Linked DNA regions of Homo sapiens: regions 2 and 3 are each linked to region 1. The links come from fine-mapping of genetic effects on gene expression. A gene starts in region 1. Each other region holds a variant in brackets. All regions are shown on one strand. Distances are between the middles of the regions. Region 1 holds the start of COL6A3 (collagen type VI alpha 3 chain). Region 2 has its middle 21 kb from the start of COL6A3. Region 3 overlaps MLPH (melanophilin).

Region 1 (9,952 bases):
TAGCAAAGAAGGCACTAGGGCCTCATTCCCAGAGATCCGCTCAACTTTCCACTCTGACACTCGAGGAGGCTTAAAACAGGCACAGGGATGGAATGAGAAACCCCAGCTGCCCTCTGGCTGTGGGGTCAGTGGAAGCCTCAAGTCCTCTTCCTTGATTGGGCTTCTAATCCTTCTTGTCTTGAAACAGGCCTAGTTGCCTCAGTGGAGCATTTTACTTTAAGCTGATTTTGGAATGTCACATACCTCCTCTTCAATAAGAGGAAACTCCAGCCTCACTGCAACAAGCAAATCTATTAACATGATTGCAGATCCATCACTGGGAGCTGGTTGGGAGGGTGAGAAGAGTGGACTTGAGCTGGCCCTCCAGGAATATCTCCCAGGATATCCCAGCATAAACCCTCTGGTCTATTCTGGGAGGCAGGGAAACAGGAGCCTGCCCCGGAGAGACTGAACTTAGGAACACACTGCACAGCCGCAATCCAGGGTTTACAGGACAAAGATCGAGGCACCCTTCAGCAGCTGTCTGGATGCTGGGATGCGGGGTGTGGCAGATGCTGCTGCTGTGGCTGCGACTTCCCTTTGAGTCCTGGAGACTGTGATGGAACTCGGATGCTTAGTCTGTTACACAGTCTGCCACTGCCTCTTAACATTCAGGGAGCTGGAGTCTTCATATTGGCTTCTCTATGACTGTGTGTATGTTCAAGTTCCTTCTAGCAGAGCCTGAGACAGGGTGTTGTGCAAGCGATTACTGAGGGAGAGCTCCCAGGGGAAACCTAGAAGGAAGGCAGGAAGAAGGATGAGGGCAGGAGAAGAAGCCAGGCAAGGAGTGGGTTCTGAGAAGTCAGGCTGGTCCCATGGCAGGTGTTCTGCAGTGAGAATCCTCTTGCCAAGTTTTTCTGGCCCAGAGGCAATGGACTGGAGTGTCACATCCCACATCAGACATCACTGGCTGTGGGCCACCCCAAGGGAGATGGGCTATAACCCTGTACTAGTTATCAACTGCTGTGTAACAAATTGTCACAAAACTAGCAATTTACGACAACATGCATTTAGTATCTTGGGTCAGGAGTTCAGGCTTGGCTTCACTGGGTCCTCTGCTGGGGTCTCAGAGGCTGAAACCTCCGTTTGGGAGACTACATTTCTTTCTGAAACACGGAGTCTTTTCAAAGCTCACGTAGATGTTGGCAGAAGTCAGGCCCTTGTGGTTGTCGAGTTGGGGTTCCTGCTTCCTTGCTTGTTAGGAGCTGCTCTCAGCTCCCAGAGGCCCCCACATTTCCTTGCCATTGGCCCTCACAGGATGGCGGCTCACTTTGTCAAGGCCAGTGTCTTAGTCCATTTGGATGGTTGTAACAAAATGTCTTAAACTTGGTGGCTTAAACAACAAAAATTGATTTCTCATGTTTGGGAGTTTGAGAAGCCCAAGATCAAAGTGCCCGCAGATTCGGTGTCTGGAGAGGTCCTGCTTCCTAACTCGTGCACTGCACCTTCCCTCTGTATCCTCACATGGTGGGAGGATGGAGCAGTCTCTCCATATCCTCTTTTATAAGGCACTGATCCCATTCATCAAGGCTTCTCCTCTACGACCCAATAACCTCCCAAAGGCCCCATCTCCCAATACCATCACTTTGGGGGTTAGAATTTCAACATATGGATTTTTGGGGGACATGACATCCAGACCCCAGCAGCCAGCAAGATAATCTCTCCCTGCCGTTTCCTAAGACAGAGTCTTCTGTGATCCCTGGGTGACTTCCCACGACCCAACTGTAACCTAATCCAGGAAGGGACACCATTCATTTTTGTCGTGTTCAAAGGCTGGAATCAGGGCTCAGCTTCCATTTGCACGCAAGGGGGGTGGATTACGCAAGGGCTTGACTCCTGGGGGTCATCTTGGAATTCCACCCACCTCACACACCCCAATGTGTCCAGAAGAGACAGATCCCAGCATCCACGAACAGTCCTCCAGGAAAGGGCGTGGGTGTGAACCACTAACATTTGACTCTCATCTGAGGGGAGTCTTGCAGAGGCACCCATGGGACCTTCCACACTGTCCTTGCCCGCAGGAGAAAGGGCAGCCAAAGTCTCAGAAAATCGCCATCCCTCAGGCCACCTTCCAATCCCATAGCCGTGTATCTGGATGGGGAGGCCCCATCCCCATCAGGGCCACAGCTACAAGGGAGCTTGGAAAATGGAGTTCTGAACTTGCTAACTTGTGTAGTTAAGGACAAGATAAGGGAAGAAAATGGGAAGAGGTGCCAAGAGCCAGTTCAAGCCTGCAGTGAAGGGGAAACAGAATTGAGATATTCCGTGACTTATGAGGTGAACTGAGAGATTCAGTGACTTATGAGGTCCCACCGATGGCCGGGCCTAGATCCAGGACTCAGGACGTTTAGGGCAGCTCAAACTTTTGAGGTTGTTTTCCTCCTGGGATCAGGTAGCAGAGAGGAACTGGAAATGTAAGTGGGAATCCACATAGTGGTGATTAAGGAAGAAAGCTGCCATAGAACCCAAATTCTCTCTTGTTAGCACAAGGGAGGTTTACCATGAGTTTCTGGAAGTTTCTAGAGCCATGGGCAGTGCTGAAGAGGATCTGGATCATCAATGAGTAGGTGCAGCTAAATATTAAAGATTATGGTTTCCTACTGAATGGGAGCTTTTATTTCTTTAAATCATGTTCTAAATGATTTCTTGCCCTTGCTGTTTAAATATAGCCATCCATTGGTATCCATGGGGGACTGATTCCAGGAACCTCCATGGATACCCAAATCCACAGAGGCCCCAATCCCTGAAGGAAGGTGGTGTAGTATTTGCACATAACCTATGCACATCCTTCTGTGTACTTCAAGCCATCTCTAGATTACTTATAATACCTAATACAGTGTAAATGCCATGTAAACAGTTGTTATACTGTGTCATTTAGAGAATGATGACAAGGAAAAACATCTGTACATGTTCAGTATATATGCAATCATCTACTTTAAAAAGCATTTTTGAACCACAGTTGGTTAAATCCATGGATGCAGAACCCATGGATACGAGGTCGACTGTAATAGAAACTTTCAATACCAAGGAATGCATCTGCCTAGCGATTTTGCGAAAAAGAGTGTATTTGTATTTGAAAGAAACCGTGGAGTGGAAACACCTAAAACGTGCTTGTTCAGTTAACCTCAGTTTGCTGAGCTGCTTGGAGCATGGGGTTGTAATCAAAGATTGTCTTCTTCGCAGCAGACAATGTTCTGGGAGAAATAGTCCTCCTTAGTGCTGAAGTTGCAGACTCTAACCAAGGGGGTGGCAGCAAGTATCCCCGGTCTCTGTAGGGGCTTGAGTCAACGCCTGCACTGTGCAGAGAGGATGAGGGCAGAGAATTGGATGCCGCTGGAGGGGCGTGTTGTCCTTCTACATGTCATGCAGGCAGCGCGGTTCTATACTCGGAGCCTCTGCTCAGCGTGTCTTCACCTAAGAACCCCATAATTCAGGTTCCATCCTTGTTCCCTACTCCAGTGCTCTGCAAGTGAGCCCTTTGGTTTAGAGATGGGTTGGGCTTCTTTATGGGAGAGGAAGGGAGCCCTGGAGCTGCAGAGGGGAGCAGGCATTCTCTCTGGGGTGCTGTCTCCTTTCTTCCCTAAATTGGAGGGAGATAATCCATGGAAAGGAGTTAATGATTTCTTTGCTCTTCAAACTTGGTTTGGAAGGATCTCTCAGTCAAAAAGAACCTTTCGGATGTCTCTTGATATTTCACATTAATGGACTTTTCATAAGGACCACATGATGGGAGAGCAGTGAGAAGTTTGGGGATGGCCAAAGCTGGGTTGTCATTTGAGCTCTGTTACTAACCCAGACTGGACAATGACGATGTCACTTACTCTCTCGGAACTTCTTTTCTTTTCTTCTTTTCTTTTCTTTTTTTCTTTTTTCTCTTCTCTTCTCTTCTCTTCTCTTCTCTTCTCTTCTTTTCTTTTCATTTCTTTTCTTTCTTTCCTTTTTCTCTTTTTTGGAGTCTCACTCTGTTGCCCAGGCTAGAGTGCAGTGGCGCCATCTCGGCTCACTGCAACCTCTGCCTCCTGGGTTCAAGCAATTGTCCTGCCTCAGCCTCCCAAATAGCTGGGACTACAAGCGCCTGCCACCATGCCTGGCTAATTTTTATATTTTTAGTAGAGATTTAGTAGGGGTTTCACCATGTTGGCCAGGCTGGTCTCCAACTCCTGACCTTGTGATCTGCCTGCCTTAGCCTCCCGAAGTGCTGAGATTACAGGCATAAGCCACCGTGCCCAGCCTGTTTCTTTCATCTGTAAAATGGGACCACAATTTCACCTAATAAAAGAAGACATCTTTCTATTTAAAAGGGCTTAGGGTGTTGATGTTTGTGATAAAGGAGAGAATGTATATTGAAGTGTTTTGAAATGTGCAAAGCTTTCTAGAAACAGAAGTTCTTACTCAAGTATTTTCCCGAAGCTTTGGCAAGATAACCATTTTTATTACCCCGTCTGTGCCTAGAATGGGCCTATAAGCGCCACAATCAGAATCATTAGATATAGAAATTAAGAGAAATGTAGCCTCCTTTTTTTTGCCGGTGAACAGAGCTTTGGTTAACAGAAAACCAAGGCGATTTTAATTGCTGGTTTTTCTATTTGAAGGGGGAAGTTATTAGTAGAAGTCTCAATTCAGAAACTTCAAGAAGAAATGGGAGGGTGTGGTGAGGGTAAGCGGGGGACTGCATTTCCTGTTTTCCTTTCAGATGGTGTTGGAAAACATTGCAGGAAAACCATGGATACCCACGAAGAAATTCCAAAATTTATTCTTTTTGACGCCAAGGGCCCAGCCCAAAAGGTGACGAGTAGGAGTGGTCAATTTTTTTTTTTAAGAGTTGGGGCTTGCAGGAGTCCAGCTAAACGCTTGTAGGGTGAAGACAGAATTCAGAGGGTGACATCAGCCTGAGCGGGGGCCAGAAGAAACAGAGTGGAGGAGTCTGGTTTCATTTACAGTTTTGGGTCAGTTCTGCAGTGAGGAGGGGGAGAGGAGGGGTCCGGGAGGGAGGAGGAGGAGGAGGAGGAGCTGGAGGAAGCCCTGACTGGTATCCCTGGCCCCAGTCCAGTTTGGAGCTCAGTCTTCCACCAAAGGCCGTTCAGTTCTCCTGGGCTCCAGCCTCCTGCAAGGACTGCAAGAGTTTTCCTCCGCAGCTCTGAGTCTCCACTTTTTTGGTGGAGAAAGGCTGCAAAAAGAAAAAGAGACGCAGTGAGTGGGAAAAGTATGCATCCTATTCAAACCTAATTGAATCGAGGAGCCCAGGGACACACGCCTTCAGGTTTGCTCAGGGGTAAGTGTGATTTCTCTTCTGTTTTTCCAGGTTTGGGGCTAGAAGGAAATGCTCTTAACCTGAAGTGATCCTTTCTAGGTAGCGTTAGTGGCTCTTACGTTCATGCTGATCGCCAGTTTTCTGTACATGTTTTAGGTCTCTGGAAGATTCCGCTGATTTTTCTTTCTCACTTTATGGCAATGGGATTTCCTTAAATTGGTTAAGGTCATGATTGCCTAAGAGTGTGAGCACTTTTCCACCGCGTGTCTGTGGCTGCTACACGCGCCCTGTGCATTCCGGGCGGCAGTGTGTTTCGGCCCATGATTTATTTAAGTTACTGCCGCCTTCTAAAACCCATTCGGGATCCGCTTTGTTTGCAGAAGCGTCTTTGCTGAGGACTAGCATAGCTCCCTGCCGGGCGGCTCCGCTGGGAGATGTTCTCTGAGCTCTCTGGGTGGTGACACTAGGTCAGGGTGCAACAACCTGCATGGGTTTTCTGCCCAGGGCCGCCCATGGGAAGGTCCTGGTGGAGCACATTTGCTGCTTTCACAAGATTGGAGTAACTCTGGTGCTCAGGATCAGGGCCAAGTAAAGGGTCGCTCAGTCATTGCCGTCAAGCTTTCGTCTTTCCAGGAACCTGAAGTCTCTATTGGAGACTTTGTCCCTTGGGGTTGCTTAAAGGAGTTGCAGGGGTCAGAGGAGAAGAAGGAATTGGGCATTTGGGCAGCATGCTGAGTGTCTAAGGCAGGGCCCCTGGGGCTGCAGGGCCAGCCCATGCTGCACAGAGGTGAGGCCAGTGCCGAGCTGGGAGGCCCCGAGGGCTGTTCTCTGGCCCGGAGGATGCAGGGTGGGGCTCGGGCCCTCTCTTGCTGAGGATGGACACGTTCGCTGACAGTGGCCAGCCTGTTTGGGGAACCTGTTTCAAGGGGCCTACTATGTTGGATAATGAACGGGTATTGAAGTATGGGTGGGGTCACTGGGAGGGACTAGGGAGTGGTTAAAGAAAAATCTGCTTCCACAGGAAGCCCCAGGAGCCAGTTTCGAGGCCGGTGCAGACCCCAGGAGCAAACCCCTCTGAGCACAGGGGAGTCTGCTGTGCTGGATGGGGAGGCAGGGCTGTGGCCCCGGCTGACTGGCTTCTCTCCCCACATACAGCTCACCCCGGCGAGGACCACAGGGTGCTAGAGCTGCAGGGTGCTCAGAGCTCACGGGGATGGTGGATGCTCAACCTGGGATCCCCCAGCTCCCCAGGGTCCCATTCTTAATGCTGTAAAAAACAACCGAAATGGCTTTAAAATCAAAGTTACATTGCTCCTAAGCAAAACTATATTGAAAACTGAGTGGGTGGCCGTTGATGACATTACTGGGACTTCTGAGGTTTTTGTTGGGCTAAAGATAATGGAAGAGATTTTTGGTCAGAAGCCACTGATGCAGTAGTTTCCTGGTTTTCAAAATGAGCAACCAGGGGCTCTGAGATGCGGAATTCCTTGCCCAGGCCAGGGAGCGAGTGCCTGAGATGGCAGTGAAATCCTTCCCCATTGAAGGAGAGCAGACAAGCCAGTGACGGAGGATCCCAAATAACTCACATCTCGTTGGGAAAACTGCTTTGGGCTCACTAAGACTCTACCAATGAACCGAGAAAGAAGGGAGGTGGACCGTGGGGCGGGGGCATCGGTTCCGTGACCGGAATACCGGGGCTGGCCGCCCTGCTCAGGCCACCTCCTGGGGGTGGAGGGCGCTGAAGGAGGGGACCTGTATGCTCTTCTTTCTGAAGTGGGCTTGTAGCTGAGGATGAAAGCCTGGGTGGGGAGGCGTGGCTTTTACAAAGATCAGGATGTAGGAACAGCTGCCTGTCTGGACTTCTTTGTTTAGGGGGTTTCTTGCTACCCAGAGGTTTAGTTCTCTCCTTTCCTCACTCATGGTCGAGAGAAGCCAGGAAGCAGACACTGAGTGGAGCAGAGGGCTTGGGAAGGAATTCCATGTTGGGGTGAAGTGAGGCTGTCCTGGCTTTTCCTATCCAGGCATTGGAGGGTGTGGCTACAGCACCTTTCTGGGAGGTGGCTGGGGAAGCCTCTAGAATGTTAGCCCTTGGCCCCGCTCTTTCCCTGCTTGGCAGGGAGCGTGTTCCACCCCACTATAGTTGTGGCCCACAGGTGAGGGGACATGTGGCAAATGTCCAAACCTGGGGTCTGAATGATATTTTTGATACGAGGTAGGCACCTTTCTGAAAAATTGTCTTTACTTCACACTTCATTTTATTTCTAAAGCATTCAGGACTCAGCAAATTGCACTGACTTTATCATCAGTGCCTTTTGTGATTTCCTATCCTAGAACTTAATACGTCCCCGATGAGAAAGTAGGAAGAAGCTCCTCTCTTCAGTCGATTGTTGATTTATGGTTCCAATGAGGCTGCTCATCCTGACCTTAGTTTCAGGAACGGAACCCATAGACCTGGATGCCTAAAGCCAGCTTGAAACAAGACCGCCTTCTTTGGAAGCTTTGGAAGCTGGCAGTGACTTTTTGCCAGCGAGGTTTCATTTGTTTCCTTGCTCAGAGTGTTCAGACAACTGGATCAAGCGTAGTCTTCACCAGCGGTTGATATCACCTCCCACTTATATGTGAAATTCCATGTTTAGGACTTAAAATTCACCGGCAAGTCGTGAATACTATTGCGTGACACTTCCTTGCAGGCGCAGTAACAGCTTTAGCAAAAATTTTTATTTGAAAGTTCAGTTTTGTCACTGCTCTTTTTGGAAGAAGCTGAAAATCTGCTATCTCTTGGGGGAAGGATTGCAGGCGGTTTCCATCTGACAGGGATGTTGTGTACCAGGCAGCTTTTCCACCCTGACTTACGGGAGCAAACTTTTCATGGTGTCCTGGCTGCAGCAAGCAGGCAGTAAAAAACACATCACTGCTACATAAATAGCTGACGATTTGAGGAGGGACCTGACATTTAAAGAAAATCCTATTAGCTCTAGCTAAGAAAATGAAAGCCGCAAACCCTCCAAATTTTAAAGTGGGGGAGCTTTAAAGTTTCCTACTAATTCAGACAGCCATGAACTAGACAAGAATGGTTATCTTCATTCTCCCGTTTCTAGATACAGCTTCTCTGTTTCCACTGTAAAACTTCAGTGGAATTCAGTGTAAAAATTCAGTGCAAAGAAAGGACAATCCTATTCTTTAAATAAAACATGTTGCTTGCCCCCTCTAATGTGTGGTCATGAATGTCTTATTTCCAGGGAGTATTCCACAGGTCCTGATTTTGCAGAGATATTCCCTTCAACAATTCACTTTGTTAATTTTGAAAAATATAATTTTTAATACATTCTGGTCTTATAGTCCATTTTGGGAAAGAGATGAAATTTTGAGGGCTGGGCACTGTGGCTCATCTCTGTAATCCCAGCACTTTGGGAGGCTGAGGTGGGCGGATCGCTTGAGCCCAGGAGTTTGAGACAAGCCTGGGCAACATAGGGAGACCTTGTCTCTACAAAAGCGTTTTAAAAAATTAACCAGGCATGGTGGCATGTGCCTGTAATCTCAGCTACGAGGCTGAGTTGGGAGGATCACTTGAGCCTGGGAGGTTGAGGCTGCAGTGAGCCGTGACTATGCCACTGCACTTCAGCGCCTGGGCGACAGAACCAGACCCTGTTTCAGAAAAAAAAAAAAAAAAAAAGAAAAGAAATTTTGAGTTAGCACGTTCATCCTGGTCTGTTTTTGAAAAGGCAGTTTGGTTTTCTTTCCTCTAGAGGGAGGTGTATCTCTGCGAGCTTCAGAAAAATCTCTGAAGTGGTGCCTGGAGTCTCCCAGGGTGGAGTTTCAGGGTTTGTAGTAACTCAGTGATGACCATCTCAGCAGAGCTTGCGGGCAGTTTTAGGACTGATATTTCAATACATGATTGTCATTATTATATTTATTGTGGCTGTTCATAATAACGGAAGTGTACATACGTTAGAGCTTTGTTTTTCTTCTCTGCTCAGGTGTAAGTGTATTGAGATGAAATTGTGCCATCAAAGGAGGCATCTTTGTTCCCAAACAATTGCATTACAAGGGTATTCAGCAAATAAGACATTTTATAGGAAGCATTTTACCCATATCTAATTACAGAGGTTTAAATGAACAGTCGGGTGCTTGAGAACCAAAGTAGGTTTGCATATTCATGCCATTGCGTATCCCTGTAGAATTACCGGATTTTAGAACTGTAAGGGTGCTCGTGACATGTCCTTTGATACTTTCCCCTAATAATGGACAATGGGTTTTAACATACTTTTAAAAATTCACACAAGCTATGATTATGAATGTCTCGTCTTGAATATTTATTAATACAAATATATATTACTGACTCTCAGATTTATGTCTGTTCGCTTGAGATAACCAGCATTAAGACTCTGAGGGAGACAATTCTAGCTCAGAGCAAAACAAACAAACAAACAAACAAACAAAAAAAACAAAAACCTAACCCTTTGGTTGGTCTTTGTGTTCTCATGTTTACTTAAGTTTAACAAGACCTATTGTGCATCATGGCCTTGAGCCCTGAGGTTCAGGGAGGGGATATATCCCTAATGCTAAATGACGAGTTGATGGGTCCAGCACACCAACATGGCACATGTATACATATGTAACAAACCTGCATGTTGTGCACATGTACCCTAAAACTTAAAGTAT
Region 2 (9,952 bases), 21 kb before region 1:
TCACGCGTGGACTAACTAAGCAAGTTTACCTCTCATGCATCTTTCCATGGGAGGTGAATGGAGGACATTCTCCCAAAAGAGAAGAAATTAAATCAAGAAAGAGCCAGACCTGACTTCTAGCAGTTGGTGCATTTGATTGTAAGAGCACCATACTCTCTGCAAGGATGGTGGCAGTGGGGCACAGGCTGGAGGGAAAGGCTGAGAGGAAGTCTCTGGGAAAGGAGGAAAGAGTAAAAGAGATAAAGCAATTGAGATCCTGGAGGGTCTTGCAAAGATATAAGGCAATTAGCAGAGTGCAAAAAGGACTCATGTCCAGAGACAATTCCTTTTTAGTTGCATTGTTGGCCTTCCAGAGAAGGAAATGCAACACCAGCACCCTACTCAGCTGTGCAGTGACACACATTTACATTGTGTGTGTGTGATATCTGTGTGTAGCAGTGATAGGTTTTTAACTTTCAGATTCAATTTTTGGATAATTTACTCCATATGGAAACAGCATTGAATGTTAATATTCCCAAATTTTTAAAAATAATAAAATAAGAGCAATGATTCCACAGAGTGGGGTGGTGGAAGGTGCTGAGGAGGGGCAGAGGGAAGATGAGGGCATCATGTCCTATTATAACATGGGATTCAAGAGGCATAGCAAGAGTTAATGGTTGGTTGTTTTAGGCCCTTTCTTTTTCCTTATATTTTCTTTTCTTTTTCTTTCTTTTCTTTTTTCTTTTTTGTTTGAGACAGGCTTTTGCTCTATCATCCAAGCTGGAGTGCAGTGGTCCAATCAAGGCTTATTGCAGCCTCGACCTCCTGGGCTCAAGAGATCCTCCAACCTTGGCCTCCCAAAGTTCTGGAATTACAGGTGTGAGCCACCTTGCCTGGCCACCCTTTCAATCTATTAATGCAAGTCGTTCAATTCTGGGAAGTTTTCTTGTGTTATTTCTTTAATAATTTCTTCTCTCCATTTTGAGGCTTCTGGAATAGATTGATCCTTTAATGGTCTTATCTTTTCCCTTCCATTGTAAATTCCTTTTATTTTTGTTCAGCCTTCTTGGAGATTTTCTCAACATTATTGTCTATCCTTTTTGCTATTTTTTTTTTTTTTTTGGTATGGAGTCCTGCTCTGTTGCCCATGCTAGAGTGCAGTGGAGTGATCTGGGCTCACTGCAACCTCTGCCTCCCAGGTTCAAGCAATTCTCCCTGCTTCAGCCTCCTAAGTAGCTGGGATTACAGGCTCCCACCACCACGCCTGGCTAATTTTTGTATTTTTTAGTAGAGACAGGGTTTCACCATTTTGGCCAGGCTGGTCTTGAATTCCTGACCTCAGGTGATCTGCCCACCTTGGCTTCCCAAAGTGCTGGGGTTACAGGTGTGAGCCACCGTGCCCGGCCTATTTTTTTTGCTTTTGATCCTTGTGTTTTTAACTAAAGTGGCAGTTAAATATTCTGCCTTTAAAAAAATTTAAAATAACATCCTGCTCTTGTTTTAAGAATGCATTATTTTTTCTTTCTTTGAGGTTATAAAATATAGTGTTTTTTGAAGTTTTATTCTGCTCTCTTTATTGCTTACTTTAACTCCTCCCCCTCCCCATTTGTTGATTGTCCTTGGTCTTTGACTTCTATGGCAGGCACATATGTAAATTTGGGGCCTCAGGATGATGGTAGGAGGGTTTCTAAACATGAGTAACTTGGGCTTTACTGCAGGGTGAGCTGCAGGCCAACTGGCTTGTTCATTAGGAACCCCCAGTGGTCAATCTCTGTGGCTGTTTTCTCTGGAGCAGTTTGGTTTCTGTAGAAAAGGACTCTCTGATTGCCAGCTGGGTTGGGGCAAGGGCTACTGGTGATCTGGGTGAGACGGCAGGACTGGGAATTTCCATGCTCGGCATGCACAATTTCCTGGCCCGCTGGGTTTCAGTCCAGCCACTCTTTTCTCCCAATGTGCCTGCAGGTTTGGTTCCTTTGGTTCACTTTCCCCAGAGAATAAACTTCCTGTCTCAGCATCTTGGGGCCACCTGGATGTGGAACCCAGGCCAGAGGGCTCCTTGTACAGATGTTTACACCATGCGCTATTTCCAGCAACCCCTGCCCTCGCCTCCTGGGTGGAGGATCTACAGGCTATGTCACCTGCAGTTACCTGCACAGGTACCTGTCACCTGCAGTTCCCAAGCCTTCCTGGATATGCTTCTCATTGTTCTCTCTCCCACCGGCCTTAAGTCCCGCCCTCTCTGGCCCTGCTGTAAGTTTCCCATTCATCTGCCTGCTTCCTGCTTTCACGTTGTGAACTGGGGTTATAAATATCTTTTGTGTCCCTATTTCCCTGTTCTCCTTGCTAAAATGTGCTTTTTGAGAAAAGTTGGGAGTGGAAAAGCTTCTACTCCAGTATCTTAAAACTAGGACTCCCCTGTGTATTTTTTTAAATTAGAAATTCAAAAATAAAATGTAACAGGGCATTCTCTGCACTCATGCCTGCTTTGAAGGGGTTTATCATGCAGCCTGGCCCCAGAGTTTAAGTACAGCAGCTCCTTTCTTCCTCAAATCCAGGCACAAAGTGGCCTGCGGGGCTGTGGGGTTGTCTCCCCGGGGTGCCTGAACAGTTAGGTCTGAGAGGCTCAGAGTGGATGGGGGCCTTGATGGGCTCACGTTGTGGATGGATGGTTGGCAGACACCATCTGGAGCTGGCAGCCTGCGGGTCACTCTGGTGATGACTGATGCCTTAGCAAGCTGTCCTGGACAGGTGCAGCACCCACCGGGCTCCTGGGTCCCCAAAAGCTATTCCATGGAGTGGCCTTTCTCTGGTCCACTGACCATGGCTGATTCTGGGGCTGCCCACAGAAATGGGCTCAGGTGCTTAGATCACCCCCAGCCAGTGCTGCTTCTCTGACCCTCCCCATGTCCTATTTGAGCTCCTGTCCTCACTGGGCAAGGTGCCATGGGACCCCTTCTAAGGGTGACATCCTCTCTTTGTTTCCTGTGGCTGCCATAACAAATCACCATGAACGTGATGGCTTAGAATGACAGAAATGTATTTTCTCACAGTTTTAGAGTCCAAAAGTCTGAGATCCAGGTGTGGGCAGGGCTGTGCTCCCTTCCAGAGGCTCTGGAGGAAAATTCTTCCTGCCTCTTCTGGTTCTGGTGGCTCTGGTGTTCCTCGGCCCCAATCTCTCCATTTTCACAGGACCTTCCCCTCCTGCTCCCCTTGCAAGTCTTCTCTCTTCCCCCTCTCTAAGGACACTATTTGTGGATTTAGGGCCCACCTAGGCAGTCCAGGATAATCTCATCTCAAAAATTTTTTTTTTTTTTGAGATAAAGTCTCTCTTTGTCACCCAGGCTGGAGTGCAGTGGCACGATCTTGGCTCACCGCAAACTCCTCCTCCTGGGTTCAAGTGAATCTTGGCCTCAGCCTCCCAAGTAGCTGGGATTACAGGCGTGTGCCACCACACCTGGCTAATTATTTGTGTTTTTAGTAGAGACGGGGTTTCACCATGTTGGCCTGGCTGGTCTCAAATTCCTGACCTCAGGCGATCCACCCGCCTCAGCCTCCCAAAGTGCTGGGATTACCTGCATGAGCCACCGCGCCTGGCCTCGAAATTCTTAATTACACCTGAAAGACCCATTTTCCAAATACGGCCATATTCTGAGGTTTAGGGATTAGAACATGGATATACCTTTCTGGGGCCACCATTCAACCCAGGGTACCCTGTAAACTCCTGACACATCCTCTTTTTGGCCTAATCCCTGCGGAGTGAGTTTTCTGCAGAGTCTTACTGATGACTATGAAGGAAACAGCCACCTTGTTGGATCTCCAGGTGACCATTCTGCTCCTGGGCCCTCACAGGTGGGATAGTCAACAGTATGAAGGGGTGACCTCTTCATTTGCGTTCATTTAGCAGACATTTACCCTCCATGTGGCACAGAGCAGGTGCAGTGGTGGAGCAGCTTCTCTTCGAGGTGTATCTGTTTTTCCCTTAGGATGGCGCCGCTGCCTGAACCAATCTTCAGGCTCATAAACCCTTGGCTGGACCCTACACTGCACTTGCTCCCTCCTGGGGCTGGCCTTCCTCCGGGGTTGACCAGCTATCTGGCATGGCCACACGCCCCACCCCATGAACGACTCTTTGAACACCCAGTCCCTGGTGACAAAGCAGGAATTCGGTGCCCCCTCCTGGGTGAGCATTTCAACAGGGCAGAACTGTACTCCAAGGAAGGGGCCAGCATGATAATTTTCAGCAGTGTGTAAAGTGAGAAGGGAGCATTTTGGCGAGGGGATATGTACTACTGAAGTTTAGTAAAAATACACACGAACTCTTAAAAGGAGTAGTAAAAATAAAAGAGCAAAGAAAGAGCAGAAACTAGATAAAGGAAAGGGGTGGGGAGAGAGTGTACCAGAAACACTATTTGTCCTCAAAAGTGCTAACATTTTCTGTTTGGAGCCTGTTGCCTAGTGAAATTCCACAACCAGGGTGTCATTCCTGCTGCGTGCAGGCTTCTCCAGAAGCCTCATGAGACCAAGGCCTTCTACTATTTTAATATATGGGTCAATGGAAAACAGTTGGAAATCAGGTAGTTGGTTAAAATTTCACTGGCCAGGCCCTTGTTTGAATAGACACATTTATAATTCAGTTAATGCTCTAGTAAAATTACACCGAGGTGGTTAGAAAATTTAAGGATTTTTTTTTTTATTTTGGAGAGGAGAAGAGGAGAGGTCAGAAATGTCCAGCTGGGAAGGCACTGAAAGACCCTGTGGCCCACCCCTCCCTTGTTGGTGAGCCAGGGGACAGAATTGAGACCTGTCCTCAGGTCTTCTGGCTCCAGCTTCTGTCCCACTTCCCTGGCAGAGGTCACGACTCTGCAAATGTGTTTTGCTTCAGAGAAAAAATTTGCTCCAACATGTAAAAATTCAAATCTCACAAAAAAGGTGGAATTTCTAGCTCCT[T/C]TGAGAATGCTGGAAGTTCTGCTGCCTGTGATGCTGTCCCTGTAAGGGTGGGCTGGCACAGCCATGCAGAAGCCAGGGGACCACCGTCCACCTGCTCTGGGGCCCCATGGGATTTGAGTCCTGTGGTGGCAGAGGAAAGCAGCTCACCCTTAGTTCAGCTGCACCTCACCCAGCAAAGACGGCCCCTACAGGTCCTAAAGGGGCAAGGGACGCAGCCAGGGAAGCTTCTTGCAGACTCTCTGAGGTCTCCGAAGTCATTGTTGACTCCCAGGGGCCTGACCCCCATGTGCACGCCTTCGTTTATTATCTCCTGGGGTGATGTGGGAGCACGTGGGGCATAAGGAAGGAGGGCTCGGGAGCACCCCTGAATATGGTCATTACTGGCATCGTGAGCCCCTCCCACCACTTCCTGCCACCCCCACTCGCTTTCTAGCCGTACGGAAATGTTTGTGGTTCTCTGCATCTACCACAGGGTTCCAGGGCCCACGTCGTGGCTCTCACAGTCCCCTGTGCTGGGATGTCCTGCCCCCGCACGGCTGCTCCATTTGAACAACTCCCACACATCCTTCCAGACCCAGATTAGGTGTCTTCTTCTCCAGGAAGGCTTTTATGACTCCAGCTGACTAGACTGAATTAGACCTTCAGGGGCGGAGCTAGGGAAGGGGTGGGGGATGGTGGTGGAGGGGAGCTAGCAGTTTTAATAAGCCCCCCAGTGGCTCTGACAGGCAGCCAGGCTTGCCAGCACTGCTCTGCTGGAAGCATCCTGCAAAAGCCGTGCTTATTTATTTGCTTTTGTGAGCTTCATCAGTTCTTCCAATTTTCACCCTGAAAATGATCCTTCAAACTCAGCCGCTGGATAAGACACCCTGAAATGGACATGCCTAATGTGAAACGTAGGTGCTTGATTGGGTTGGGCTGTGATCGTCTGTAGAAGGTTGACTAAATGGGTGTCCAGTGTCTTATTTGTAGCTCAGAGAGACAACCTTCTGGCTACAGTGGTAAGAACTGATGTCTCCTCCAGGTGCTTTTGATGGGCCAGGTGTGTTCCAATTACTTTAAGTGTTATGCACGCATGCACTCTGCACTGCACCCTTATGTGCAAGTGTGACTATTATCCTTATTTTACAGAGAAAGACAGTGAGATCTGGTGAGGTTGAGTACTTGGCCCCCGGTGACTTATCACACCTGGGATTTGATCCAGACCCTCTGGCTTACACCTGTCTTAGGTCTGGCTCCGTGGAAACAGTGCCTGAGACAAATTCTCAGTGCAAGTGACTGATCAAGGGATATGGATGCTGTGGGAGAAGCTAGCACAGGAGGGAGGGGAGCGGGAGAGGTCGGGGAGGAAGTGGGGCAAGGGGTGTGCAGGGGAAGTGCAGCCGAGCCGGCTCTCATGTTGCTCAGGGGCATTCATTAGATTTGCCCTGTAGTGCTTGGCAGCCTTCCCTTTGCCAGTCTTTGGCTTTGGGCCTTCTCTGGAGGGAGACATAGTTCTTGGGACCTCTGGGGAGGGGCCGCTGTTGCTTAGGGATGATTCTCCAGGGAAGGCTACCTGTGCGAGCGCTTAGCAGCACCTGCAGCAGCTGGGAGATGGGCTCTCCCGTGGACAATGAATCCTAGGGGCTGGAGGGGGAGTAGCCAATGATGTGGCCATCACCCATCACAGCCCTCATCCTTAGCCATGATACAGAGTGCAGAGCTGTAAGCCATCCGGGCAGCTCAGCCTGGCCCAGACAATTCTGGAAAGGGAAGGTTCCTGGGCTTTTTTCTCCTGTGCTCCGGGATCTCCACTGTGGTTGCCATCAATAGACATGATTACCAGGCACCTCTCTCTGGCGGCACCTGGATGGGCTTCCTTCCTTGGGAGTCTGAAGGTGGCAAAAGGGTGCAGAGGATGTCCTGAGAGTGCAAAGTCCTTCCCCTGCACTAAGAGTCACACGCAGCCATCTGTGTTCTGTACCTTCTGTACCTTTAGCCCATGGCACAGTCTGGCACATGGTAGCTCTCAGGGACAGCTTAGTGGCATGAATGAATGAGTAAAGCAATGATGCCATCAACCTTATTGCCACCAAGTTCCCGGCCATGCTGCTGTCCAGAAAGCCTATTGGGCAAACTTGAGGCCTTGTTATCTTCTCCTTCACTGTCTTTCTAAGAAACAGGCTTGCAGCCCACTCGCCACCCCTCCCAGAGTTTAGTTGGCAGATTTGATGCAGGTCTTGGGTGTCTGAGAAAGTGATCATGTGTGTTTCCTGGGGACGCAGACTGCCAACGTGCAGGTGAGAAGCTACGGGGCAGTTCTCCAATGCTCAGTGACCCCGCTCGGGGCTGGAGAGGTGAGTTGAGGAGACAGCGAGGTAGGGATGCTCATGCATGGTTACGGTTACTGTTTACAGCTTCTCGGCCATTCGTGGCTGCAGCCAGTGGAAAAAGGACTTCACCATTGCTTATAAACCATGAATCAGTGTCCGCCTTTGCTAACGGCTTCCTTGGTGAGTATCTCATTCACTTTGCCCCTGAGGGAGGATGGGGGGTAGCTGGAACAATGTGCGTCTGTGCCATTTCCTGTGAATGGCTGCCTGGCAGTCGTCTGCTCATCAACCCCAACGCAGTGCTCCGACCCCTCCCGGTCTGTGGCCGAGGTGGGCGGGCGGGAGGTGAGCCTGGCTCCTCTGCTGGCCTGCCTCCCCACTTACTCACTACCATGTCATCTACCCAGGCCTGTCCCCGCCCACTTGCCGATGGCATCCCGGACCTGGGACAGCCTGGCAGGGAGCCCATGTTCCTGTTCCTCCCTTCCCTTCCCCAGAACCTTCTTTATCTACCCCAGAGAGCCAGCATTCCTTCCTGCAGGGGCTCATCCTCCTGCAGTGCTGTGGTCAGCAGTGGGCTGGACACAGAGAGGTGAAAGCTCATGTCCTGTCTGCGAGAGGTGCATGGTCTTATCACAGTGTGCACAAGTGATGACACGGAGGTCGGGTACACTCCTGCTGGCAGCCCTGTTGCAGGAGGGCATCACTCTGTCTGGGTTGCCAAGGACGGCTGCACAGCAGAAGTGATTGTTAAGTGTCTGGGTGGAGAAGAGGGAGAGGATGTTCCAGGCAAAGAGAACAGTATGAATGGCTGTGAAGTTCCAAGGCTCTTTATTTGTTACATGTGCTAAAACATTCTGTGGCCTTTAATCTCTTCTACTTACTCCTCTCAACCAATCTCCATGATAACCCTGGGAGGCCGGAAAGATGAGGGCATTATTGTCATTTCACCACAGAGAAATTGGAGGTCAGATGGAGTAGCCAACAATCCACATCCTCTCCTTCAGACCAGTGACAGCCCCCAGCCTGCAGCCTGCCCCCCACTTCTCCATTGCTGGGTCAATGCACAAGATGCATGATTTCATTTCATCCTATTTCACTTCATCTCATCTCACTGTATTCCGCTTGCCTCCTGCTCCCCAGCTCTAGGCAACTACTGACCTTTCTGTCTTTACAGGTTTGGTTATTCAAACATTGCATAGGAATGGAATCATAGAACACATGATATTTTGTGACTGCCTTCTTTCACTTGGCGTAATGTTTCTGAGGTTCATCCACGTTGTAGCGTGTATCAATACTTCATTCTTTTTAATAGATGATTAATATTCCATTGCATGGATGTAATACATTTTGATCATTCATCACTTGATGGACATTTGGGTTGTTTCTACTTTTTGCCTATTAGGAATAATGCTACTAAAATAAACATTTTTTTTGTTTTGCTTTTGTGTGAACATTTGTTTTCAATCCTTTTGAGTGTATAGCTAGGGGTGGAATTGCTGGGTCATAGGATAACTCTATGTTGATCCTTTGGAGGAACTGCCAGAAAGTTTTTTTTTTTTGAGGTGGCTGCACCATTTTACATTCCCACCAGCAGTGTGTGGGAGTTCCAGTTTCTCTGTATTCTCATTAATACTTGTTATCTAAGTCATCCTAGTGAATTGGAAGTGGTAGTTCTTTGTGGTTTTGATTTGTCATTCTCTGATGACTGGTGACATTGGGCATCTTTTCATACACTTATTGGTCATTTGTACATCTCCTTTGGAGAAATGTCTATTTAGGCGCTTTGCCCATTTTACAGATTGGGTTTTTTTTATCTTTTATTGAGTTGTGAGAACTCATAATTTATTCTAGATACAAATCTCTCATGAGATATGTGATTTGCAAGTATTTTTTCCCATTCTGTGGGGTGTCTTTTCACTTTCTTAAAAGTGTCTTTTGAAACACAATAGTTTTAAAATTTGATGAAGTCCAATTTTTCTATTTTTCTATTTGTTGCTTTTTTTATGTGTCATATCTAAAAAAAAAACCATTGGCTAATCTAAGGTTGTGAAGATATACCCCTATATCTATTTCTAGGAGTTTTTATAGTTTTAGCTCTTATGGCTAGTTGTTTTTTTGTTTTTTTTTTTGAGACAGGATCTTGCTCCATGGTCCAGGCTGGAGTGCAGTGGTGTGATCACAGTGCAGCTTCAACCTCCTGGGCTCCAGCTCCTCCCACCTCAGCCTCCTGAGTAGCTGAAACTACAGTTGTGTGCTACCATGCATGGCTAATTTTTTAACTCTTTTGTAGAGACGTGGTCTCACTATGTTGCCCAGGCTGGTCTCAAACTTTTGGGCTCAAGTGATCCTCCCACCTTGGCCTCCAAAAGCATTAGGATTGTAGAAATGAGTCACTGCATCAAGCCACATTTAGGTCTTTGATTCATTTTGAGTTAATTTTTGTATATGAGGTGAGGTAGGGATCAAAGTTCATTCTTTTGGATGTGGATATCTTGTTTTCCCAAGAATGATGGAAAAGACAACTGTTTCCCTTGGAGTTGTTTTAGTGCTCTTGTTGAACATAAATGTAAAGGTTTAGTTATCAATTAAACATAAATGTAAGAGTCTATTGCTGGGCCTTTTTGGATTCATTAATCTATATGTCTATCCTTATGTAAGTCCCATGTGGTCTTGATTCCTGTTGGTTTGTAGTAAGTTTTGGAATCAGGAAGAGT
Region 3 (9,952 bases), 89 kb before region 1:
TCACTGCACTCCAGCGTGGGTGACAGAGTGAGATTCTGTCTCAAAAAAAAGAAAAAGAAATGAGAAGAAAAAACAGTTTCATTAAAGAATCACCTTGATGAAACCCTAAAAGTTATGAGTCTTTTTGAACCGTGGCCCCCAGTCCATGTCTTTTGAGGATTCTGCCTGATGAGCTTGGAGGAGGACAGGAAGCTCTTGTGCCACGTGTTGAAGGTGACAGATATTTCTATTAAAAGGATTGGGCAATTGTTCCGATCGCCACCTGAGCTAGAAACTTTTCTTATGAAATAGCATTTTCACTTGAGAGAACAACAGAGAGATGAACTGTTTCGACTTGGGTACTTGGCAGATATTTTCTCAAAAATGAACAAAGTGCGACTCTCACTTCAAGGAAAAGAAGTGACAGTATTTATTGCCAGTAATAAAACGGAAGCTTTCAAGCACAAAGTAGAATTCTGGAAAACATATATCGCCTGCTGTGAGCTTGACAGTTTGCAACACTGGGAGACTTTTGATGAGGGTTTCCAACACCGGGAGACTTTTGATGAGATCGCTGGTGAGAGTAACAGAAGTGGTTCTCTTTTGGTGTGCATATGAAATGTGTCAACATTTGAGAAGTCTGCATCACTCAGTGAGCCGGTGTCTTCCAAATGATTAATGCATGGTGTTACAAAAATCACACAGGGGTAGAAAATCCACTTCAAGTGCAAGAGAGACCAATGGATTTGAACAAACAGAAAAGGAAAAGTTCATTAACATGGTTTCAGATTCCACATCACAACTAACCTTTAAGAAACTACCAACTGGCCGGGCGCAGTGGCTCATGCCTGTAATTCCAGCACTTTGGGAGGCTGAGGCAGGCAGATCACTTGAGGTCAGGAGTTTGAGACTAGCTCGGCCAATGTGGTGAAACCCTGTCTCTACTAAAAATGCAAAAATTAGCCAGACATGGTGGCACGCACCTGTAGTCACAGCTACTTAGGAGGCTGAGGCAGGGGAATCGCTTGAACCTAGGAGGTGGAGGTTGCAGTAAGCCGAGATTACGCTACTGCACTCCATCCAAGGGTGGCAGAGAGAGACTTTGTCTCAAAAAAAAAAAAAAAAAAAAAGAAAAAAAAAAGAAAAAGGAAAAAAACTACCAACTCCAACTGCCGGGTTTTCATGTTGTAACAACACATGATGTTAATTATTGTCTACAAAGGCTATTCAAGTACTCCTTTTTTCAATTATGTATCTGTATGAGCCTAGATTTTCTTCAAATACTACAGCCTAGAAAACATGTTACGACCCACTGAATGCAGAAGCAAGTGGAGAATTCACCCATCTTCTATTGTTCCAGATAAGGGAGGAGACCACCCCTCATATTGTCTTATGCCCAATTTCTGCCTCCAAAGAAAAAAGAAGTAAAAACTAAAAGGCAGAAATGAAATCCACAGGCAGACAGCCCAGCGCCACACCCTGGGCCTGGTAGTTAAAGATCGACCCCTGACCTAATCAGTTATGTTATCTATAGATTACAGACATTGCACGGAAAAGCATTGTGAAAATCCCTGTCCTGTTCTGTTCCATTCTAATTACTGGTGCAGGTGCATGTAGCCCCCAGTCACGTACCCCCTGCTTGCTCAATCGATCATGACCCTCTCACATGAACCCCCTTAGAGTTGTAAGCCCTTAAAAGGGACAGGAATTGCTCACTCGAGGAACTTGGTTTTTGGAGACGTGAGTCTGCCGATGCTCCCAGCTGAATAAAGCCCTTTCCTTCTACAATTCGGTGTCTGAGGAGTTCTTGTCTGTGGCTTGTCCTGCTACACAGACATTAAAGAGATTTGCAAAAGCAGAACAACACCACTCACCTTACTCACACTCTGATTTTGGGAAAATCTCATTTTTTATAAAAACTGTATTTATATTAACATGTAGGGGGTTTACTGTTATTTTTAAATGAGTGAATAAATAAATATTTTTAACTCCCAGTTTTAATTTCTGATGTGGTAAATATTAATAGATATGACCCATATGAATAAAACTCTTTGGGGTTCTCAGTAATTTAGGAAATGTGAAGGGGTCCTGAGGCCCAAAGGTTTGAGAACTGCTGATTTCGAAGTCAAGTTTGCTCTCCCTCCCAGAATGTGGAGAAAAGGGACTAAGCGATGGGAGACAGTGGGGAGATGATGGCAAAGGCCGAGAAAGTGAGCTCCCAGGGGAGACAGAGCCCTGGAGACGGGGATGCATGGGGGTGGAAGGGAAGTGCTGTCCTTGTCCTTGGGGCAGGGGACCCACATTACTGTCCTCTGCAGTCCCACCTCCAGAGGGCCCTGGGACACGCATGCCAGAGCTGTGACTGGTGGGGCAGAACAGAGCCAAGGGGGCACTCCTGTCCTCAAGGGAGGCCCGGCAGCCTCTGAAGAAAGGGCGTATACCAGGGAAGGAAAACGCTTCTAGGACGGGAACAGGAAGGAAAGGCCGCTCCTATGATGGGGTCTGGACAGGATTGGTGAGCCACGCAGGGTGAAGGGGTCAGACCTGTGCCCTGCTCTGCCCCTCTTGGGGTGAAATCTAGACAGGGGTGTGGTGGCAACATGCAGGAATACTGGGGAGAGCCCAGGATGGCGGGGCTGGTGGCCACCCCTGAAGGCACAGCAGGGGGAAGCTCCCACTGTGGCCATCCCCAAGGTCCAGCACACAGGCGGGGGAAGAGCCTGCATGAGGGGTCCTGTGGGCCTCCACTTGCGTTGGGTGCTGGGGTGGTGGGGAATCCACATCCCTGTGATCCTTAAACCATGCTCCAGCAGGACTGCATGCGATGAGGAGCAGCCAGGGGACTGGCAGAGGCTTGGGGTTGGTGGAAGAGGCCACAGCACGTGGGTATGTGGCTGGGATCAGGGTCTCAGTGGTGGGTGCCATCCGTATCTCAGTGCCCGGCCAGTACCCTTCACATACCAGCCAGCGGTCCCCATCCTGCAAGCTGACCTGCCCTCCACTCTGCATCAGGACCAGCAAGGAGGTGGGGACAGTGTGTGGAGTCCAGACCCCATCAACCTGGCCACCGGGAGGGTCATGAGCCTTTCTCCCAAGGCCCAGCTGCTGGCCTGGCCAAAAGCATGGGTTGGGGAGCAGAGGTGGGGTTGTGGGGAGCTCTGGAAGAGAAGCTGAGCCAGGAACAGAGACCCGGTAAGTGAGCAGAGTCTGGGAGATCTGAAGCCCTGAAGCTTGCACTGTCTTGCTGCTCAAGGGGTGGGGTCTCACGAGGGGGAGCAGATGGGAAATAAAAGACCTGTATTTCCTTTGCACGGCTTGGTTGGGTGAAGTTTTCGACCATGAGTTTTTGCCATGCCACTGAGGCAGCCGTCACCCTAACAACACAGGAAAACTCTCCTAACCAGAGAGAAGAAACAAAGAAAGAGCTGAGTCTTCAGATTAGAGGGGTCGCTGGATGGTAGGAGATGCCTACACAGACTGACAAGACCACTCTGTTATAGGGCGGGCAAAATCCCTACCAGCATGGTGGACAGAACCGGCGGCCTCCAACAGAGTGGAGGTCATGCAGGGGGCCCTTCTGCAAGGCTGAGGGCTGGCCGTGGGGCAGTGGCTCCCGTCCAACTGCTGCCATTTCAGAGCTCCACCAACTCCATGGCTTAAAACAATGCAAATGCTGGTCAGTTGCGGTGGCTCACACCTGTAATCCCAGCACTTTGGGAGGCCAAGGTGGGTGGATCACCTGAGGTCAGGAGTTCGAGACCAGCCTGGCCAACATGGTGAATCCCCATCTCTACTAAAAATACAAAAAATCAGCCCCGTGTGGTGGTGGGCACCTGTAATCCCAGCTACTTGGGAGGCTGAGACAGGAGAATCGCTTAAACCCAGGAGGTGGAGGTTGCAGTGAGCTGAGATTGCGCCACTGCACTCCAGCCTGGGCAGTAAGAGCAAAACTCCACCTCAAAAAACAAAATAAAATAAAATAAACACAATACAAAAACAATGCAAATGCATTACCTGACAGCTCTGGAGGGCAGAAGTTTGACTCAGGATTCATTGAGCTAACATCAAGGTGTCGGCAGGATTGTGGCACCTCCTGGAGCCCCCAGAGGGGAATCTGCTCTCTGGCAGTTTAGCTTCTTGAGGGCTTCAGGTATGTGGGCTCCTGGCCCCTTTCTCCATCTTCAAAACCAGCCATCCCTTCTGCTTCTAAGGCCCCTGTGATGATATTAGGCCCGCCCAGGGAACCCGGGATCATCTCCCAGGTCCAGGCCAGCAGGTGGGCAGCCTAAAATGCATAATCCCATTTCTGTATAGCCTCACGAATTCAGAGGTTCTTGGGGTTGGGAAGTAGACATCTTTTTGGGGGGGATTATTCTGCTTACCACCGGTAAGCATCCCCACAGCCTGTAGGGGAAAGCGTGTGAGGTCAGATTGTACTCCCAGGCAAGTGGAACAGATCCTCAAAGACAAAATCCACACTCCATGCCATGCCTGAGAAAACAGCCTGAGGACAGACCCCAGGTAATGGAGAAATGATTCCTGAGGGTGACCCTGAGTTGGGGACTGGAGCACAAAAGATCCAGTGAGTCACAGGATCCAGGGGCCAAATGACTGAAAGCGTGGCAACCAAAGTAAACCTCACGTCAGGGCTAACGGCTGGCAGAGGACGGAAAGACGGCAGCATTGCTGAGGAGCAGCACCGGGGACCCAGGCTCCTCATCCTGGGAACGCGTGTCGGGAATTACCACGAGGGAGCTGGAAACTCACTCAAGTTCCTGGAGATCCTCTAAAGGGGAAGACCAAGATGACGATAAAAAAGATGAAGAGGAAGTGAGTGGTGATGTGAGAACGGCAGGCGCTGAGAGACGGAGCCTCAGAGTATCTCCTAAAACATCTCAGACCAATGTTCCCCTCCAGGCCCTGCCTTGGCAGCGGAGTCCCTGTTTTAGCCCCTATTTTTTTCATCTCTAGAGTTGCCTGTGTCCGTGATTCCAACTAGTCCGGCTAAGGGTGATTTCAAATTCCTTATGATCAAAAAAATGGATTTTTATTATTTATTTATGTATTTATTTTTGAGATGGAATTTCGCTCTGCTGCCCAGGCTGGACTGAAGTGGTGTGATCTTGGCTGACTGCAACCTTTGCCCCCCGGGTTCAAGCGATTCTCCTGCCTCAGCCTCCTGAGTAGCTGAGACAACAGGCGCCTGCCATCATGGCTGGCTAATTTTTGTATTTTTAGTAGAGATGGGGTTTCGCCATGCTGACCAGGCTGGTCTCGAACTCCTGACCTCAGGTGAACCACCTGCCTCGGCCTCCCAAAGTGCTAGGGTTACAGGCATCAGTCACCGAGCCTGGTCAAAAAAAAATTTTTTTTAAAGCAAGCCACGGTTTGCCCGTGTCTCATACTAGGAGACCCTTCACAGATTCTCTCTGAACCTCCTCTGTTTGCAGAGATCACAAATCCACGTCACCACCTATTTGCCTTTCCAGGGCAGGTTGGCAGTCCTAATATTTGATTTGTAGGCTGTGTCCTTTAAAACAGGGTGTTCCGTTTGGGCTTCAGCCTTTCCCCCAGGGCATGAGTCACCCAAGTCCGGCTATGCATGGTCTCCTAGTTCTTCCTGGGTTTGGAGAATATCCATTAATTTCTACCATAACCACAGCTGAGGGGCTACCCTAACAAATGCAGAAAGCAGTTACTGGGAGAACTTGACACAAGCATGATACAAAG[C/T]AAGACACAAATCAGCACCAATGCAAGCTCCAGGGTGCCCAGGAGGAGGCCTGCTCCTTTTGTGCACAGCCCCAGGTCCCTTGGGTCCAGGACAGGGATGGGTGCCTAAGAAGTTCTGGGCTCTTCTGGGGACAGAAGGAGTTAAAAGCTGTGACTATTAACCAATGTTCCCTTCAAGAAGGTTTACTTTGGCCCTACTTTGTATTTGTAGAACATTAAAAAATAATAACATGTGATAATCTTTTCTGTACTTAAAACCTTCTTAATACCCAAGTGATATGAATGAATCTAAAACACTCAAGATGAGAGCACTCTGAGGACCACTTCTATGGAACTCACCACCAGATTACAGGAAAACAGGGACAATGGAACTTTGGTGCAAACATCACGAGGATATCCTCAGCTAACTCCAGACTGTGAAAAATTCCACAAAAGTAAACAGCTAGCTTTCTTCTACACATAAGCTTCAAATTAAAAAAACAGAGCTGAAAAGAGATCTTACAGATTCAAAGAGACTTAAAAGATACAGCAAGCAAGTGTAAGGTCTGGACATTATTTGGAGATGAGCGGAAAAGTTTTAACACACATTAGATATTTAAGGAATTAGATCTAATTATTTTATTTATTATTATTATTATTTTTTGAGGAGTGCAGTGGCGCGATCTCAGCTCATGCAACCTCCGCCTCCCAGGTTCAAGCAATTTTCTTGCCTCAGCCTCCTGAGTAGCTGGGATTACAGGCACCTGCCACCATGCCTGGCTAATTTTTTTGTATTTTTTTTTTTTTTTTTTTTTTTTTAGTAGAGACGTGGTTTCACTATGTTAGCCAGGCTGGCCTCGAACTCTTGACCTCAGGTGATCCACCCTCTTCGGCCTCTCAAAGTGCTGGGATTACAGGTGTGAGCCACTGTACCTGGCCTAGAGTGAATTATTTTAGATGTAATATATATTTATGGGGGAAATAGGAGATGAGAGGAACAATAATACGAGACAATACACCAATACACAGCAAGCTCTCACTCACTGCAGATAGACCCGCGAATGCTAAAAGTAAACATTTACCAGATATTCATCACAGCTGGGTAACCCGCCCCAGACTCAGTTTCTCACTTGTGCATGGGGCCAGTAAAAGTAACCACATCACAGGGGTGTCTGAGGGTTAAAGGAGACAATAGAGATGAAGCTGAAAGAGGTCATCATCCAATGTGAGCCCAGAGAGCTGTGGAGTCGTTCCATGGTCAGTACTGTGCTGGGGGCTGGTGACACAGCGCCAAAGCAGCAGAACCCTCATGGGGCTTAGATGCCGGCAGGGATAAGACACTAACAAGGAAATGACTCACTGGGCATTGGAGAAGCGCTAAGGAGGAAATGGAGGAGGGAGTGAGGTCCCACGGTGAGCAGGGGTGAGGAGGGCGAATTTCATCGTAAATGTGATGGAAGCTCTGTGGGGGTTATGAGCCGGGGGATGACCTGATCCACATTTTTAAGGCATGAGTCTGGGGGATGTGGGGAGAATGGACAACAAGACGGTGAGGGTGGAGGGAGAGAAGAGTAAGTGTGTGTGTGGGGTGGATTCCTGTGGTGTCCACAAGAAAGACAGTGTGGCGTGACCTGAGGCTGGCATTGAGGGCGGTGAGCAGTGGCTGTATTGGTTGAGCCACGGGACTGGCTGAGTGTGGGGTGTGGGGTGAGAGGGAAGGAGCAGAGACAGCCATGAGTCCTGGGAACTTAACTTTGGCAACAGCCTGCATCCAAGATGGGGATGGGGTGCTTGGAGGTGGAGGAGAAATCACAACTTCTGTTTTGGACATGCTGGGACAGAGATGTCAGTGGAACACTTTGGCCGCAGTGTCGTGCAAGCCTTTGCCTACAAAAGTCAGAGTTCAGAGGATGTGTCTCTGATGTGGGTGTAAACTTGGGACTCATTGTTTAGATGTGTTGTCTAGCTGCTGTAGTAGCTCCTAGCTGCTAGGGCACATGCAGCTATTTACGTTTAAATTAATTAAAATTGAATACGATTAAAACTTTTTTTCCCCAGTTGCATTAGCCACACTTCTGGTGCTCCATAGCCTTGGGTGGCTAGTGGCTGCCACATGGGTCATGCAGATACGAACATTTCCATCACTGTAGAAAGTTCCATCAGGCAGTGCTGGTCTAGAACTCATTTAAAACCTTGGGGCTGGACAAGGTCACTGGAGAAGTGAGTGACACAGAGCAGAGAAGAGAGTTGAGGCCAGGGCCCTCGACCCTGCGAAAGGGAATATTTAAAGAGTCCAAGAAGTTCCAGCAAAGGAGACAGAGAAGGGACTAGACTCCAACACACGACGTAGAGCCACATCCAGAGAGGGCTCAATGAGTGCTGAGCTTCTGCTACCATTATTGGATTTTTCTACGTATTTTTTTAAAAAAGTAAAATCTGGCTAAGTGTAGTGGCTCACATCTGTAATCCCAGCACTTTGAGAGGTTGAAGTGGGAAGATCACTTGAGCCCAGGAGTTCAAGACAAGCCTGGACAACATAGAGAGACCCCATCTCTACAAAAAATTTAAAAAATTAGCTAGGTGTGGTGATGCATGCCTGTAGTCTCAGCTTCTCAGGAGACTGAGGTGGGAGGGTTACTTGAGCCTGGGAGGTCGAGGCTGCAGTGAGCCATGATCACGCCACTGCACTCCAGCCTGGGTAACAGAGCAAGACCCTGTCTCACAAAACAAACAAAAAAAAAGTAAAATGGGATAAAATTACATTTTCACAACTTGCTTTTTCTACTGGACAATGTCTTGTGAACTATTAATGTCAATTTATTTCTATCATTATTTTCATTGGGTGCTGAGCAACCTATTGTTAAATCCGTTGTTAAATTTGGTATTTAACCAAAGCCTGAACATTTGGACATTAGGGTCTTTCTAGTTCTTCTCTCCTGTAACCCTTGTCTGATTCTCTCCTTATGATGACTTCCAGCAGAGGACCTGCTGGCTCAACAGGTGAGCATACTTTTAAGACTTTTGCTACCTTAGTCCAAATGGGCCTCTGCAAAGATCTGATATGGTGGCCACTAACCACATGTGGCCATCAAAAACCTGCAATGTGACTAATAAGACTGAAGAGCTAAATTTTATTTAATTATAATTTTATTTTATTTAATTATAATTAATTTTAATAGCCACTAGTGGCTAGTAACTTCTGTCCTGGACAGTGCAGCCTTAGGTCTATTTATATGATGATTTAACAGGGCTATGTATATATTTTTCTTTATCTTCATCAATATGAGGTGTCAGGGCGAGGCTAGTGAACACTCTGCCGTGAAGCAGTTTAAATCACACAGGATTTATCTGTTCTTTGACCATTTAAAAGATCCATCCATGAAAGCATATGGACGAAACCCTCCGGGAAGATCTGTCATTGGCAATTTATTCCAATAATGGGCCAGCGGGAAAAAGAGGAGGCTTCAAACTAACCACAGAGTAAAGTCAAGAGAGTGTGGGGAAAGTTACACCCAGGACAAGCAGAGGGTCAGGAGGGACAAAGGCTGAGAAGGGGCTGCTGATCGGGCAGCTCCTGGGATAGGACATGGGTGTTAAGTCAAATCTATCCTAAAATGCCTATCTGATGCCAGTGGTGCTAACATCCTAATTTTGTACATCTTCAAGTTTTCGATTCTATGGTGCACAGCACTGTGTCCTCGTGGGAGGCAGGAACAGCCCTCCCACTCTATATAGCAAACAGCCCATTCCCAAATCCCTAGTGGCACAGATGACTTGAGAGAGAGATTATGCCTGCCTGGGCTAGATCAAGACGTGCTGGCTTCCCCTTCCTTCTCACCGATCCCTCCTAAGGGCCAGCAAGGAGAGCCTTGTCAGGCGTGTGCGTCACCGAATGTCCACAGCACAGCTTGGAGGGAGGGGCAGGCCTGGCCAAGGGAGCAGGAGCTTCCGTGGCTTGGGGACAGGATGCTGCTCATGGGGGTCTCAGGGTCACATGCCCTCCTTCCTCCAGCATATCAGGGATCTGGACCAGCTTGTTTGTCCCTGCTTTGACAGAGGAGAAATCAAAGTTGTGTTGTTCTGACGCTGTGGGAAAAGGCGCAGGCGTCACCTCCAGACCCTGCCCAGCGTCCTTCAACGTGATTGATGCTCACATCTGGAGAGAAATACTGAGCAGGAATCCATCTGACACACATCTGCTAATTTTAAGACTGTTAAAAGAAATGCATTTTCTTTGGTTTGATAATTGGTGCATTAAGTGAAT

The links. PIP is the estimated chance that this variant, and not a neighbour inherited with it, causes the effect. A credible set is the group of variants that fine-mapping cannot tell apart.
Region 2: its variant is the best candidate, but not a certain one, in a credible set for the expression of COL6A3 in whole blood (INTERVAL, PIP 0.81).
Region 3: its variant is the best candidate, but not a certain one, in a credible set for the expression of COL6A3 in whole blood (INTERVAL, PIP 0.82).

The regions. Positions count from the first base shown.
Region 1 is chr2:237,409,312-237,419,263 of GRCh38, reverse strand. It overlaps COL6A3 (collagen type VI alpha 3 chain), which reads left to right and starts at 5,100. Exons shown (of 44, transcript NM_004369.4): 1 at 5,100-5,311.
Region 2 is chr2:237,430,524-237,440,475 of GRCh38, reverse strand. No RefSeq gene overlaps it. Among named protein-coding and RNA genes, the nearest start is that of COL6A3, 21 kb to the right of the region's middle. RefSeq lists an enhancer at 7,061-7,567. The variant T/C (reference allele first, on the strand shown) is at 4,927.
Region 3 is chr2:237,498,220-237,508,171 of GRCh38, reverse strand. All of the region lies in intron 2 of MLPH (melanophilin), which reads right to left. Among named protein-coding and RNA genes, the nearest start is that of MIR6811, 7.7 kb to the left of the region's middle. The variant C/T (reference allele first, on the strand shown) is at 5,710.